2 separate regions of the Homo sapiens genome follow, and region 1 is linked to region 2. A link means that fine-mapping ties the variant in region 2 to the expression of a gene that starts in the linked region. Tissue or cell type: whole blood. Region 2 holds a variant in brackets; the other region holds the start of a gene. All regions are shown on one strand. Distances are between the middles of the regions. Region 1 holds the start of CMKLR1 (chemerin chemokine-like receptor 1). Region 2 overlaps CMKLR1 (chemerin chemokine-like receptor 1).

Region 1 (8,326 bases), 25 kb before region 2:
GTGGGGCTGTGGGTTCCCACCTCCTCTGCCAGCCACCCAGGGACCCAGCTGGCTGGGGGACCAGTGTCCTTGCTCTGCCAGTTGTGGCTCCTAGCTGATGAGACCCGAGCTTAGGTTTGGCTGGGAGGCCAGAGGCAGAGGGAGGCATGCCACAGCCACAGCCACCTCCAGGGAGGAAGAGGCATGTCCAGGAGTCCATCCCCGGGCTGGATTTACCCAGCTCCTCTTCCATAGTACCCGTGTGCTTGATCTTCCTCGAAGGCTGCCTTCTGGCCTCCTTCTCTTCTCTCCCACTCTCCCTCCTCTCCCCCACTCCTTCTTCTCCTCCCCTCTCCTTTATCTCCCTTTCCTCCCCTTCTTCTCTTTCCCCCTTCCTCCTTCTGACCCCCTCCTCCCCTTTCTTCCTCTTCCCTCCTCCTCTCCTCTTCCCTCTTTTTCCTCTTTTCATCTCCCTCCTCCCTTTCCCTCCTCCTCCTTACCCCCTCCCCCTCTTCTCCTCCTCCCTCTCCCCTCTCCTCCCCTTGACCCCTCCTCTTCCCTCCTCCTCCTCTCTTCCTCCTTCCTCCTCCTCTTTTCATCTCCTTCCTCCCTTTCCCTCCTCCTCCTTACTCCCTCCTCCTCGTCTCCTCCTCCCCCACCCTCTCCTCCTCCCCTTTCTTTCTCTTCCCTCCTCCTCCGCTCCTCTTCCCTCCTCCTCTTTTCATATCCCTCCTCCCTTTCCCTCCTCCTCCTCCCCCTCCCCTCTCCTCTACTTGGCCCCTCCTTTTTCCTCCTCCTCCTCTCCTCTTTCCCTCCTCCTCCTCTCCTTTTTCCCTCCTCCTCTTTTCCTCTCCCTCCTCCCTTTCCCTCTTCCTCCTCTTCCTCTTCCACTGTCCACAGCAGATGAGGAAACTGAGACTCCAAAGGTGAAAGGCCTTGCCCAAGTCACACAGCTTACAGTGACAGCGACAGGAATTCAAACCAGGTCCGTCTGCTATCAAAGCCTCTGTTCTTAGCCACTATTCTGTGCATTGGCAAGGTGACTTGTTCCAGGGCCCATTTCAATGGATTCCTAATTGAAATGCCTATGTCAGTGGATCTCAAACTTGAGCAAGCATCAGAATCCCCTGGAGGGCTTCTTAAAACCCAGATGGCTTCCTGGAGTCTCTGATTGCCAAGGTCTGCAGTGAGGCCCAAGGGTTTGTGTTTCTAACAAACTTCTGGGTGAGGCTGCTGGGGTTGGTATGGAAACTAGACTTTAGGAACCTCTGGTCTCTATTAGATGGTGATATACAAGATCCCTGCCACGTTATGGAAATATCCTCTCCTTTCACCAGGAGAACCTGGGGAATGACATGATTTGGCTTTGTGTCCCGACCCAAATCTCATCTTGAATTGGAATTCCATAATCCTCACGAGTCATGGGAGGGACCAGGTGGGAGGTAATTGAACATGGGGGTGGTTTTCCCCCCATCCTGTTCTCATGATAGTGAGTGAGTTCTCATGAAATCTGATGGTTTTATAAGAGGCTTCCCCCTTTGCCTGGCACTCATTGTCTCTCCTGCCACCCTGTGAAGAGGTACCTTCCATCATGATTGTAAGTTTCCTGAGGCCTCCCCTGCTATGCGAAAATGTGAGTCAATTAAACCTTTTTTCTTTATAAATTACCCAGTCTTGGGTATTTCTTCACAGCAGTGTGAGAACGGACCAATACAATTACTAACTTCTGGGTGACCTTGGGTGAGTCCCTTGCCTCCTCTGGGTTCAGTGTTCTCATCTGTACAGTAAGTGTTTCGATATGATGTTTTGTTCCCTAGATAAGCCCAAAGAAGAAGAGAGCAAGGAAGACAGTTGGGTAGACTGGGCCTGACTTCTGACTATAGAGACCTGTGTGACCTCAGGCAAGAGACTCAATCTCTCTGGGCTTCAAGTTATCTGTGAAATGGAAGAATGAAATTAGATGGTTTCTAAGTGTAAAGCTCACTGAATTAAAGGATTGAGGATGGTGGGGAGAGGTCGGTGGGGTTCTAAGGCTGATCAGACGATGAGGACATAGTCCTCCACCTGCCCAAGACTTTGAGGCCCAAAACACAGGTTTCTCTCCTTCTCTCCCTCCCTCCCCATCTCCCTCTCCCTTCACCTTCCCCTCCTCCCCATTACCTTCCTCCCTGCCCTCCCTTTTCTTCCTTTCTTTCTTCTCCTCCCTTCCCCTCTCTTCCCCTCCCCTGCCCTTCCCTTTTCTTTTTCTTTCTAAAAATATTATTTTAGGCAGTCGTAGGCAGTCTTGGCTTTGGAATCAGACAGACTCAGATCCAGCCATGGCTCGGTCAGCATGAGCTTGGCGCCCTGGGCAAAACGACTTCTGCTCTGTGGCCCTAGCATCCTCATGTGTAGAATGGGCAAGTGATGCCCCCCCGACGTGGGTGGTGGTTCACACGGCTTACTCCATGGAAGCACTTGGCACAGGGGCCCACATGGGCACTTCTGTTATTTCTTCAGTCTGGAGGCCAAGGGTGGGCCTCCGAGCCAGACAACATAGTTGGAATCCCAGCTCTGTCAGCTGCTGGCGGTGTGGTCTTGAGCAAGTGACTTAATCTCTCTGTACCCCAGTTTCCTTATTGGTAAGACTGGAGTAGTAATAATTCCTGTTATCTAGGGTTGCCGTGAAGAGTAAGTACGCATCGCCTAGCACGCTGCCTGGCTGTCGGTTGTTTTGATTATTCCACTAATGATGGTGACCACACAGCCGATGAACCAGGCACTTAGCGCCTGGTTAGGGCAGGGAACAGAATACAGTTCTTTCCCTACAGAGTTCCTGGTGCAAGGAGTTCTCGGTGCAAGGAGAGAGACATCTTAACAGGCAAGGACAGCACTGCATCAGTGAGGTGATGGGGTGACCCTGAGGGGCACAGCAGCCCCCGAGGGTTGGGGAAGGCTTCCCTGGGAGGTGACCTTCAACCTGAGACCTGAAGAGGCAGTAGGAGACCATCGGGCCACGAATTAGGGCAGGAATAGCATCCAGGTGGGAGGAACAGCGTTGCAAAGGCCCAGGGTGAGAGGCAGCCAATCTCTCGGTCAGTGTGGAGCTTGAGCCCCTCACCGGGAGCAGAGGCGCTTGCACTTCCCCCAGCAGCCGGGTGCTCAGATGTGCTCCCTGTTTGCGCTCAGTGGGCACGGCTCCCCGGCTGCAAGAGGCTGCCAGAGGGGCGGGTCGTCCCCAGCGGGCCCCCGCCGCCACCCACAAGCCCAGTCCCCGGCTGGTAGGGGCACCCTCCCCTCGCAGCCCCCTCTCCACGCAGCTAGCCGCCCCCGCCCTAGGTCAGCCCAGTTTCCTGCCCCTCCCTCCTGCTCTCCTCCCTCCAGCTGTTTCTCTGGCTGAGTTCTGTCCCAGTCCCATTCAGGGAAGCAGCCCCGGCGGCCAGCAGGGAGCTCAGGACAGAGCAGGCTCCCTGGGAAGCCTCCGGGTGATAGGGGTGTTCCAGCTGCGGCGCTCTGGGGGTTCAGAGGGGGATCTTGAATGAACAAATGAATGAACTGCTTTCTGGGCAAACAGCCACAGCCAGAGGAGCCTGTGATTGGCAGAAAGAAGCCAGGGTGTGCAAGTCTCCCCAACAGCCTCGAGTGGCCTGCAGTCACAGGGAACCCTCAGGAAGACCTTCCGGGCAGAGACCAGAGGGAAGGTATCATCACACACTTGCCTTGGGTGTCTTCTGAGGGGGGCCAGGGAAGGGGAATGAATACTAACAGAGAGAAAAGTTTGTTTCTTTTTATAATTTCATATTTGTTAAAAGGAAGAGTTTTGTTATTATTTTCAGATGTCAAAAGTAATGCATGTTCATTGTTTAAAGAAATAGCAAGGATACACAACTAAATATATGAATGTGGATTTCCACATCTAGTTTGGTAACCTGCTTAACCACAGATTGTGAACTTTTTTCCATATCACCTATATTCTTCCAATATACATTTTTCATGGCTGCATAGAAAGGCTATCTTAAGATTATTTGACTTTTCCATAATAGATTTGCTTCTTTTTTTTTATTAGAACAGTGCTGCAATGAATATTTAGTATGACATCTTTGTGTGTGTGTCTTATGAATACCTTTTAGAAATTGCTAGATTTAAGGTTTGCCTATTTTTAAGACTTCTGAGCTTTTGGTCACACTGCACCCTGGAAGGCCGTGGCAGCTTGACCTCTCTACGATGTTATACCAGGGCACAGTATTCTCACATACTAAACCCACCTTGTTGCTACCCATCCCTTAAACTTTCCCTGATGTGAAGTCGAGAATAATATCTAGATGCTTCAATAGGCATTTCATTTCTTTGTTAGTGTTGATTCTCTTTTATAAACTTATTTTTCACATTTCTAGTCTGACTCTCCTGTTCAAGTCTGTTCCCATTTTTTTCTCCTCTGGGGGCATGTTTATCTTTTTCCAATTGATATCTAAGGGTTCTTTGTATATAAAGGACACAAAACCTTTGCCGGCACTCTCTGTTGAAAATATTCCACTCCCTCCTCTGTCTTCAGAATAGCCCATTTTAAATGGGCAAGCCAGCTTTGGCAAAATTATAAGCATTACAACATCAGGGAACTACTACTTGATATAAGCCCAATCACTCAGACCTGTGCGGTTCAGAGATGCCAGATCACTGGTCTGAGGTCACACGCCTGAACGTCCAGGTTCTGAGTCTTTCTTTTTCTATTAGGGAAAGCCCTCAACTTCCCTTTTGCATCCCCTACCTCCTTCTCAAGACCAATCTTCTCTGTGGTTCTTGCTGTATCTCCTGCCCCTTCCAAACTGGTTTGAAGGTAAGATTCCTCTAAATGCCTTGGCTGCTGAGGTGAGTGTGACTGGGTCATTCAGGCCTCTGGTGCAGGAGGAGGCAGCTTGGCCTTTTCTTTAACCTAAACCAGTGGCACTCAAATGATGATGTGTCATACACTTGGGAGGTCCACAGGAGAGTTATCTCTTGATGCACAGGGGCCTTCTTTGGACTCCCCCAAAACTTCAGGGAACAGATAACCTTAACTTTGGGCAAGTCATGCCTTTCTCTGGCTTGACTTGTTCTGAGAAGTCCCCTACCCGCACTGGGTCAGGGCTTGTCTGCTAGGCTCTCCCAGGGCCTATCCCTCCCTTATCACGGCTCCTACCACACCGTGTTCTAATGACCAGTCATCTTGTCTGTCTCTCCTTCTAGCCGGGAGGCCCCTAGAGGCCAGATCTGGGATATTACTTTTTTTCTGCATCCTCAGTCCCCTGCACAAGAACTAGCATATATTAGGGTCATTGTTCATGGAATAAATAAAGTAACCAGGTGTCAGTTTCACCATCTGTAAAATGGGGTGGGGGAAGTTGGACTGAAGTCCCATCTCTTAGATGTTTACCTAATAACTCCTCTCAGTTTGCAAACCACTTTCTCGAGATGATTTTATCAAATCCTCACCATGGCCACATGATGAAGGTACTATTAACATGCCCATTTTACAGATTAGGAAACAGAAGCCTGGAGAGTTCTGATGCTAGACCTCCCCACAAAAGGGAGTAGAACATTGTGCAAGAAGGGGCACCTTGGTCTTAGGCAAGGTACTCCCACTCTCTGGCCACAATAATATCATCTGTAAATAAGGATGATATTATTTGATATTATTATCACTCTGGGGGTGGGCTTGAATTGGCCTGCCACCTGCCAACTGAGTGACATGGAATCAGTTATTCCTCATCTTTGTGCCTGAGTTTCCTCATCTATAAAATGGGAATATGATCAGTAACTGCCTCATAAGATTATTCTAAAGAGTAAATGAGATCATACAAGTAAAGCTGTAAGCAGAGGATTTGTTGTAAAATAAGGTCTCTATAAACATTAGCTATTGTTCTGATGATCATTTCTATTCCACTGTGCCTGTCTATACCTGTGACACTCATCTGAGCCAAATGGAAATTATTATTGATTTCTTTAGTGGATTATTAATGCTCTTATTCCCACTGATGTACAAGAAAACCAAAAGCTTATTTCATTCTCTTTGAGCTACACCACATGGGTGCAGACATTACCGCCAGTTGCGAGGCTATGAAGTAGACTCAGAGCTTCTCAAAGTGCAATCTCTAGACCACCTGCATTAGAATAATTGTGAGTGTTTCTTTTTTTTTTTTTTCCTGGAGATGGAGTCTCGCTCTGTCGCCCAGGCTGGAGTACAGTGGCGCAATCTTGGCTCACTGCAAGCTCTGCCTCCCGGGTTCACGCCATTCTCCTGCCTCAGCCTCCCAAGTAGCTGCGACTACAGGCACCCACCACCCCGCCCGGCTAATTTTTTGTATTTTTAGTAGAGACGGGGTTTCACCGTATTAGCCAGGATGGTCTCAATCTCCTGACCTTGTGATCCACCCACCTCGGCCTCCAAAAGTGCTGGGATTACAGGCGTGAGCCACTGCGCCCGGCCAATTGTGAGTGTTTCTTAAAGCTTCAGTTTGGAAATCAGAATCTCTGTGGATGAGGCTTCAGTGTCTGCATGTTGAACCAGCACCCCAGGTCATTCAGATGCACCCCAAAACTTGAGAACTACCAACCTAGAGTGCTTAAAAGTCTTTCCTTTTTGCCCTTTGTTCACACTGGGGTCTTGGGTTCTTTGCTGCACAATAAGGTTTCTTTTTTCCCTTCTAAGCAAATATTCATGTACTTCTGTGAATCCACATGTTCCGTGTCAGCAGTTGAGGCCAGAAGGTTTGGCAGAGAAGAAGCGAAACTTTGTCTTATAGTACCACAGAAAGTCAGATCGTGTTAGCAATCCCCCAGCATGGAGGCTTTGAAATTATTTTCAGTTGCAGAATCCTTTCCACAAATGAAAGTCTTATGGGGAAGTGTAATTTGAAAACAGATAAAGGTGGTGTTATTCTTGTTGAAACAGAGGTGGAAGACTCCAGGCTGCCACTAAATCTCACTCTTGTTGCTGAAGGGCCTCTAAGAATCTTTGTAGCTCCATGGGGCAGGCAGGAAACTGCAACTCCTCTACTCCAAGGAGTTAAGAGACCAAAGTTCTAGACATTTGTTGAGCTTACTGTGTGACCTTGGCAAGGCACTCTTACTCTTTGGCCACAATAATTTCATCTGTAAATAAGGAGGTCGAATGGTATATCAGCTAGGGTAGTAGCTGCAGTAACAAATAGGTCCCCAAAGGCATAAGGGCTGAAGCAAAGCAGAGCTTTATTATAAGGCAAGTATTTCTGAATGGAGGGTGGTCCTCTTCCTCATGGTACTTCAGTGACTCATCTGGTGGTCCCACTCTCTCCTCAGATATCCTCATTGTCTGCAGCCAGGTGCACAAGACAAAAGAAAGTATGGAGGTGGCATATTTGCTTATCTGCTTTGGCCTGGAAGCAGCAGACATGACTTCCACTCACATGAGAACTATCATGTGGCCAATCTAGTTGCAAAGGAGGCCAGGACATGGAGTTACAAGGATATGAGGTTCTTGGCAAAGAGCAGCTCTTTCCCAGCCACAGTCGTGTATTGTGGACAGGGAGAATGAATTTTTGTGGACAGCTACCTGTCTCTGTCACAAATGTGGTGACCTCTTGGGTTGCTTCCATTCTTTGATTCTAAGTCTACATTTCCATTAGTCAATCTTAGTTAACATGGTGATGTTGGACTCACAACATCACCTATCCTCAAGGTAATTCCCATCAAATATACTAAGTAAATTTCCAGACTCCAGGCCCCTAAACATGGATTTTTCTGAAACATAGGCAACTGCCATTCTCTTTTCCCCCTGGAAAAAGGAAATAAGAATAATGGTTTGATAGAACATGCTGCGGGTTATTAAGCCAAAGGTATTTATATCCATTATCTACTTGAATCTCCCTACAAGCCTACATGGAAAGGCCTCAGGACTATCATCCCCATTTTATAGGTGAATAAAATGAGGCTCAGAGAGCTAAAGGGACTTGCCTAAGGTCACACAGCTCATAGCAAAAGAATGGGATTTGAACGAAAAACATCTTATTCCTGTCCTAGGGCCCCACTGCACATTTGAATGTTGGTGTTCATGTACGTGTACATGGTGTGGTTAGAGTCGGGATTTTCCTTGGGCTGGGCTCCCCCAGGGCTGGGCATGAGGGAAGTGAAAGCTCAGGAATCATGCTCAAACTCCCCAGAATGGGCCAAGGCTGCTGACTGTAAGGCAGCTGGGTGGTTGTCCTAGGTCCTGGGGTGAAGAAGTACAGTGTGACCAAGTATTACAGCCACTGGCTGTGTAAAAGAGAAGGGACAGTGCATGAGGGTGTTGTGTGGTCCTGGAAGACACTGAGGCTTCAACTGGGCTGGCCACATAGTGGGTGCCTGGGAGCAC
Region 2 (8,326 bases):
AAAGCCTATTAGAATTGTGGATGGATGGCTGTTAGGCTAACAGTGTTATTATGTGAATAGTATGTGTGTTGTAAATTCTAAGGCCCGTGGTTTTCATTCCTATTTTCTCCTTGATTGTGACATAAGCACATTTGGAGTTTTCAAACTAGCTGGATTTATTGCCCAGCTGACTACGGCTTTCCTTGATGTCAGAATGAGGCCACCTTTGGCCCACTTTGAACCAGCTGAGAGAGTCCTGTGGGGTTTACACAGAGCCCACCCCTCCCTCCAGTGTCCACATCATCCTCATGACCGTGATGCACTCCTGGTGGCCTCCTGAGGCCATGGGTAGTCAATACCTATGTCTCATAGTGGACCTGCCATTTCATTCCAAGCTCTTGGTGAAATGTTTGTAGGGAAAACAATGCGTTCTTGTGGGCTCTCCTTGACACTAATAACCATGGATGAAGAGAACCTCTAGAGCACATAATGACTGAAACCCATGCTCAATGAAGAGAACTGCTTGGGATGGCTTTCAGCTCATCTTGTGTCTGCCAGGACCTTCCCAAACACTGCCTCCAGCCCACCACCAAACAGGCTGTGTGTTAAATCACACCTTTTCCTGTTAAAATCAACCAATGACATTGAGGCTGGGTACAGTGGCTCATGCCTGTATTCCCAGCCCTTTGGAAGGCTGAGGTGGGTGGATCACTTGAGTCCAGGAGTTGGAGACCAGCTTGGCCAACATGGCGAAACCCCATCTCTACAAAATACAAAAAAAATTAGTGGGGTGTGGTGGTGTATGCCTGTAGTAGTCCTAGCTACTCAGGAGGCTGAAGTGGGAGGATCACTTGAGCCCAGGGAGGTTGAGGCTGCAGTGAGCTGTGATTGAGCTCCCACTGGCGGTTCCAACCGGTGCCTGTGGCTTTCCATCCCAAAGCAAAAGCCCCACCCATTTCTGCTATGGGGTTGACACCTTGCCCGTAGCTCCCTGATCTTTGGGGATTTTGGAAATCCCCAGCACTGCCTTTCCTGTGCTTTTAAATGTATGCAAATGCAATAGCAAATGGCCCTCACCCCAGGAGGACAGCTATTCATGGGGCCCCTCCCTGCCCACACCGGGTGGCTCCATGGGGTCTTGTTAAACCTTCTCAGAGGTTGGCAGAAGACTCCTTTTAGCCTTGTCCCTTTCTTCTTGCCTCTGGGTCTCTCTTCCTGGGGACTTTCTTCACCCTGCCTTCGTCTTTCTTCTGCCACTTTGCTGCTTTGCCCTGACCGCTCTGTCCTCCTTTTTCCAGTCCCTGTGCGTCTCTCCTCTTCCTGCTGGCTTTCCTCTCCCTGCCCCTCTTCCCCCTCTCTTTCTGTCTACGTTGAGGAGGTGTCATCCTCTGTTCTCTCTGCTCTTTCTTGGCTGTGCTGCTTCTTCCTCCCTCCTAAGATCACCTATCCCGCCGAGCCCCTGCCCTGCTGGGGCCTGAAGTGAAGAGGGCTCTTCCCTCAAATTCCCTAGAGCTGAGGGGCAGGGCCAGCATCTCAGGCTGGCGACCAGTGCAGCCACACAGGGCTCAGAAGGCCTGTGCTTTGTTTAACACTTGGCAGTTGCTGTCCTGAATTCTCAGTAATTTTTGAATAAGGGGCTGCATTTTCATTTTGCAGTGACTCCATGAAGTATGCACTGTTTCTGCTGAGGATTATGAACTTCCTGGGGGGAACACATCCCCTCCTCTTAGAGCTGTAAGAGCTGGGCTGAGGCGCAGGGTCCAAGTGCTGGTCCTGCGTCTGCTCCTCACTCACCCAACAGTAAGCAGCAAGATTCATCTTCATTTTACCAATGAGATAAATCAAGGCTCAGAGAGGCCATGTCACTTGCCCAGGGACCCACAGCTCATGAGCCCGGATTGAAGGAAGCTGACTCTGAAATTTGGACATTCTGTGGTCCTTTCCTGGCTGAAACCATAGGGGCTTTGGTAAGCCACCCTTTTATCAGTGAACTAAGGCTCAGTCTTTGCATCTGGAAAATAGAGGTAGTGAAAGTAGCCATCTGTGCAGAACCAGCTGGTGTTTAAATCCTGGAAAGTTCCTGGCACATGGCTACCTCCTGAAACAGCAGCCACAGCCTTTCTGAGCCTCCATTTTCTCATCTGTCAAATGGGGATCATGGTGGTACCTGCCTCACAGGACCCTTATGGGAATTTAATGACACAGGACGTGTGCTTAGCTTAGGGCCTGGCACAAGTAGGTGGGCAAGGCTAGTACACAGGAGCTTCTAGGCCAGAGGAGGGAGTAATCTATGAGTAGGGAAACTGTAGGATTTATTGTCCTGACTGGGGCACTTTGAGAATGAAAGGAACATGACAAGAAGCATAAACAGGGATTGTTGTGGGCAAGCCAGGATGGAGGGTCACTCTACCTGTGTATCAAGTATGTCTTTGTCATGATTGTCTGTTTCATAAAATATGTTCACAGATAGGTGAGTATAAGGATGCCCCAGGCCCACCCCCAGCTGGTGTGGAGAAAGACTGTGTTTGGGCTGGGTGCAGTGGCTCACACCTGTAATCCCAGCACTTTGGGAGGCCGAGGCAGGTGGATCACCTGAGACCAGCCTGACCAACATGGAGAAACCCCATCACTGCTAAAAATACAAAATCAGCCAGGTGTGGTGGCGCATGCCTGTAATCTCAGCTACTTGGGAGGCTGAAGCAGGAGAATCGATTGAACCTGGGAGGTGGATATTGCGGTGAGCTGAGATTGCGCCATTGCACTCCAGCCTGGGCAACAAGAGCAAAACTCCGTCTCAAAAAAAAAAAAAAAAAAAACAAGGCTGTGTTCGAGCCTGGGCCATAGAGAATGATGTCCCTCGGGCTGGGCATGATGGAACATGATGGTAAGCCCAGCACTTTGGGAAGCAAAGTGGGAGGATAGCTTGAGGCCAGAAATTCAAGACCAGCTTGGGCAATATAGCAAGACCTCATCTCCAAAAATTAAAATAATAAAATTTTAAAAAGGGAGGGGGAAAAAAGAAAGAGTAGTGTCCCACTTATCACTGCTACTGCTACCAAAGCTTCAGTTCTGAAAAAACATCAGGGAGAATGACTTAAAGGCCACGGTTCAGGCCCCTTCTCAGATATTCTAGAAAATTCTTTGGATTACACCAGCAGTGCATACACCTGGATGTGTAGACTGAAACTCACAGTCATATCTAGGAAAAGCAGCTTTTACTGAATTGCAGTTTGGGGCAGTGCTGTCCATCAGTGAGTGTTTGGAGCCTCCCTTAAAACATTCAGGAACTGGAGACCCCGTTCCGTGATCAGATCCCCCATGTCTTCTCTCCACAGGCTTCTGGAGACAGTCCTTCTGCTCCTAGCATCAGGAAGCCTTACTATTCCCCTGAGTGGGTTTGGTTTTTAGCAAGGAGCATGTGACTCATGTAACTGGGTCCCCCTTTCAGGAAGCTGGGGTTCCAGTGTATGGTCCAGCCACTGTCAGTGTCTAGGAACTTCTGTGTCCCCTGCATTTCACCCTTAGCCGTGACTCCATTTTCTGTCTCTACACATGTTTCCCTTCCTTCTTTTACTTTAATTTATGTTCCCTGTATAAGTGAGCCTCTTTTGAACCTCCCACCATCCACAGCTGCATCACGCCAATAATTAAGTGAACAAAAATAAAAAATCGACAAACCTGCAAGCAAAACCATATTGTGGCACCCCTCCCCAACCCAGGAGAGCAGCTCAGTTGGCCTGGTGGGGGTCGGCTGGCAAAGGGTTAAGAATGATGCAGAGGAAGTGCTGGCGGAGATTAAAGGGAGGAAGTGGCTGCTGCCTGGGGAGGGAGGTGGCTGGCTTGTCCTGTGTGACTCCAGGGGCCTAAACCAACACTGACACGAATGTGGCAGTTTGCTCAAGGTCAGTGTAGTGAAAAAAAGGAAGAGCTTTCCAATGACTTGA[C/T]AAGTCTTTCTAGAAGTTCTACTGGTGGGGGTTTCAAACTCACTGATAGCTGACTCCAGACATAGCTCTCTTTAAACATAACAGCCAAAGGGCATGTTTGTTTGAGCCAGTCTCTTCATGTTCATAGAGTGACCAGCGGGCCCTGATTGGCTGGGACATTCCAGTTTGAGCACTTTACATTCTGCATCCCAGGACACCCCTTGGTTTCTGGCAAACCAGGACAACTGGTCACCCTATGCACCCTACGTATATGATCTCATGAAATCTTTACATTGACCCCCTTTACAGACGAGGAGTCTGTGATTTAGTAATCCAAGATTACATAGCATGGGAAGGGCCAAGCTGGGATTCACATGTGGATTTGCTGTAACTGAGTGAGGCTTAAGCTGTCAGCTGCACTGAGCCACTTCCCTTTTCCTGTAAGATGAGGGTGTGAGACCCCTTGATCCTAAAGCCTCTCTAGCAATGACTTTTAGGATTCTAGAATTTCCTCTGGTCTTCGAGCAGCTTTTTGTTTTCCATGGAAGGTGGGGTGGGGTAGGGTGGGGGGCAATTTTTCCAGCAAGACCCCTCCTAGGTCAAGGCTTGGGCTTTGCCTTGGGAGAGGTGACAGCCTGGTGACAGGGTCAAAAGGAAGGGCAGCCTGCCCCTCCTTCCCTGTGCCTGGGAACAGGGTGGGATCTCATACTCCACCGTCCTGATTGCTGGCAGTGGTGCCAGTCCATTTGTCAGCTGCTTGGGCTGGAGCCAGGGAATTCCAAGGGGCCAGAGCCTGCCTGAGCACTCCAAGGCCTCTGTGCTCGTGGCTGGCAGCCTAGGCAGGAGGACCCTGGGGCAGCTCAGGGCTCTGGGATTTTTCAAAGCTCCATGTGGCTGGACAGGCCTCTACAGACTCCCTGCCCTGGGAGTCTGGCCAGCCTGTGGAGACTGTGCAGAGGGGGGTGATTTGGAGTCTCTAAGTACCCCAAGTCAGTGAGGTAGCATTGTGAATGTGCAAGGTGCGGAAGTTGCACAGGTGGGGACAACTGATATGAGATCACAGGGCCCCGTGTGCAGCAGGCAAGCCACAGAACATAAAGGACAGTGACCGTCACTGAAGACCTGGACTCCAGAGTCAGGCAGTGCAGATTCAGATCTCTCCTCTGCCCCTTCCTACTGTGAGATCTTGGGCCAGTGCCCTTGCTTCTCTATGGCTTGATTTCCACATCTGAAAAATGGGAATGAAAATATCTACCTCGAAGGTTTGTTGTGAGTGGAGGCACTGAGTATGCCGTCTGTGCCTAATAAGCAGGGGGTGGATTCCATGAGCCCCAGACTCTCAGTTTTGGTTCCTCTCACCCCATAGCTGCACCCCAGGACCCTGTGACAGGCAGTGGGTGAGGGCTCTTCCCCATGGAGAAGCCGTGCTGGTAGGCTGTAAGGGAAGTCCTAGGGAGAGGAAGGAATGCTGCCTGGACACGTTTCACAGTCTTGTGATGAAAGGGGCCTGTCAGCCCATCCACGATGCTTGGAAATGCTGTGATAAGGGCATAGATGCTTTGAGTTCTCACAGATCTGAGTTCAAGTCCTGGTTCCACTGGGCACTGGCTGGCGATCCTGATCTGGTTCCTTTTACAGCCTCAGTTTCAACATCTGTGAAATGGAGGTAATGTCCTCAGGCCAGGGGGAAGATGGATTGTCAGGACACAAGGAGATGAGGGGGTGTCAAGCTCACAGCTAGGTGCCTGGCACGTAACAGGATGGGTCTCTTTCCTCTTGTCACCTTGCTGTTTGCTCTGCCTGGATTTGTGCACATGAGGCTGGGAGAAGCAAGGGGATGCTTGTGGAAAGCACACCCCAGGCAGAGGGACCTGCAAGAGCAGAGGCCCAGGTGCTTTGAACCATGCTCGGGGTACTGGGCTCCTTAAGCACAGGGAGCAGGTTGGTTTGGAAGGACTTGGCCTCTGAGGTCCCCCCAGCAGTCCTTCCGTGCCCCCAGCCTGGGGCTTCCCATGAGTCCTGCAGCCCTGTCCTGGGTCAGGGGTCGCTGACTTCACTTGGGTTGTCCAAGGGGAAGGGAGGCTAATGCCCATGCTCAGTGGCCCACCCTTCCTCCTGTTGCCTCTTGCCTCCACCAGCTCTCCCCCTCTATGCTGCCTTTTCCCCTTAGCGTCCTTTCCCTGGCACTTTTTTTCTTTTTAGGAGGCAAAGTCTTGCTCTGTCACCCAGGCTGGAGCGCAGTGGTGCAATCATAGCTCACTGCAGCCTCGACTTCCTGGGCTCAAGCGAGCCTCCCACCTTAGCCTCCTGAGTAGCTGGGACTAAAAGGTGTGTGTCACCACACTTGGCTAAATTTTTAAATTAAAATTTTTTCCCCTAGAGGCAGGGTCTCTCTATGATGCCCAAGCTGGTGTTGTACTCCTGGCTATAAGTGACCCTCCCGCCTCAGCCTCCCAAAGTGCTGGGATTACAGGCATGAGCCACTGTGCCCAGTCTCCCTAGCACTTTTAAGTGTTAATATCTCACACGCACACATACACACATTCATGTCAACCACTAACTGGATCTGACATAGTAGGAATGGTTTTGGCATCTGAGCCCCAGTCCTGACGCCATTTTGCTGTATAACTGTGGCCAAAAACCTCCTTTGTGTGTGGGCCTCTGCTTCTCCATCGTCATCACGACATTGACTTCAGTTCACTGGGGAAAAGTTGAAAGCAGGACCCTGATGGTGGAATTGAAGGCATAGCAGCAGTGTGTATCTGGCATCAATTTGCAGTGGGGGATGCCTTTCCAGAACCCCAGCACCAGACCCCAGAGACTGCTGACTGCTCCTTCATCTGCACCCTGCTCATCTCCTGGGCGGGGGGTGGGGGGGCGGTCTTCGAACTTACCTGCCTCACACACGTGTCCTGGGATGTGCCTCCCTGGTGAGCTGCAGGTTCTGGCTGCCCCTCAGCACTGCCTCCCTCCTGTCTCTGCCTACCCGCCTTGCTGAAAGGCCCTGGGTCCATGAGGCCCGGGGATGGGGGACTCGGTGTTACCATGGCAACCATAGCTTATCTGTGGCATCATGGACTCCGGGGGAAGATGGCTCCCAGCCCCCAGGACTGGACAGTATGGGCCCTTCTCTGTGACCTGGCTTTTCCCGTGAAGACCCATCTGAGTATCTCTGGTCCTCACTCCTCCGCTCACTCAAGACCTTTCTTGGAGCATTGGTGGTTGCCATGGAAATGGCTCTGGAAGCAAACCAGTCCCTGTGGGCTGAGGAAAAATCCTTAAGAAAAATAAAGAGATTGCTTGGCTTCCTGGCTCTCTGATGGGACATCCTGATGCCTGGAGCCTCCAAAAACTGCACTTTCTGGGTAGGCCTGGAACTGGCAGAAGGATCCTCAGTTCACCAGGCCTCTTGCTATTCTCCTGCCTCCAGCCTTTCCTCTTCCAACGCAGTGCCCACATCAGCCACCCAGGTTAGAAGCTGGAATCTTTTTAGAAGGATGATACCCTCTGCTTAAAACCATCCATGGCTCCCTATTGCCCATAGGATAAAGTTGATGGCTTGCAGGGATCTCACAATCTGAAACCCTCTTCTTTCCTTAGCCACATCTCCTGCCTTCTCCCCTCCCCTAACACACACACACACACACACACACACACACACACAGCCCCTAACCACACTTTTTCAAGCCTCTGTTCCTCTGCAGGTATGTCATTTCCCTCGGCTGCTCCACCTGGCAAAGGCTTCATACCCTCCAAGGCTCAGCTCAAATGCCACCTCCTCCAGGAAGCATCCCCTGATTTCCCCAGCCCTTTCTCTTTACTTTGTGCAGAGCCAGGGCCACACACTCAGTGACCAACAGGGCCAGGCAGGAGACCCAAATGACCCATTTATGAACATTTTTCATGTCCACAAAGACATACGTGCTCTCCTATGAAAGCTGAAAATGAGAATGACTTGGTTCCTCTTTCTCTCACTGGATTGCACTTATTTCTGCCACAGCAGAGACCCTGGACAAACTCAATGGCAAATTGCAACTGGCTTATTACCCCAGGGAACAATAGGGAGGGGTGGGGACTGTGGATAACCCCTGTTCTGTAATGCAAGCCCAGCATGGCCAGTTTGCTGGAAGCCTGGAATTTAGGTGACATCTCAGAATACTGACTGTGCCACGATCTGTTCCTGCAACCACTTTCTCTGCATGAAGGTAGTGACTGGGCCATCTTACTCCCACAGCATTTGGCAAGGAGTGTGACCCTTAGACGTTGCCCACTACTGGCTTTTTTTTTTTTTGGAGATGGAGGTCTCACCCTGTCACCCAGGTTGGAGTGTAGTGGTGCAATCATAGCTCACTGCAGCCCTAAGCTGCTGGGCTCAAGCGATCCTCCTGCCTTTGCATCTGCTGTTCCCACTGCCTACCATGCTC

What was found. PIP is the estimated chance that this variant, and not a neighbour inherited with it, causes the effect.
Region 1: it holds the start of CMKLR1, and the variant in region 2 is fine-mapped to the expression of CMKLR1 in whole blood (TOPMed, PIP above 0.99). The same link has a PIP of 0.9 or more in monocytes.

The regions. Positions count from the first base shown.
Region 1 is chr12:108,334,360-108,342,685 of GRCh38, reverse strand. It overlaps CMKLR1 (chemerin chemokine-like receptor 1), which reads left to right and starts at 3,375. Exons shown (of 4, transcript NM_001142343.2): 1 at 3,375-3,659. RefSeq lists a silencer at 3,092-3,211 and an enhancer at 3,319-3,942.
Region 2 is chr12:108,309,404-108,317,729 of GRCh38, reverse strand. The region is part of intron 2 of CMKLR1 (chemerin chemokine-like receptor 1); the gene reads left to right. Among named protein-coding and RNA genes, the nearest start is that of CMKLR1, 26 kb to the left of the region's middle. RefSeq lists an enhancer at 670-1,188 and silencers at 904-1,198, 1,304-1,598. The variant C/T (reference allele first, on the strand shown) is at 3,924.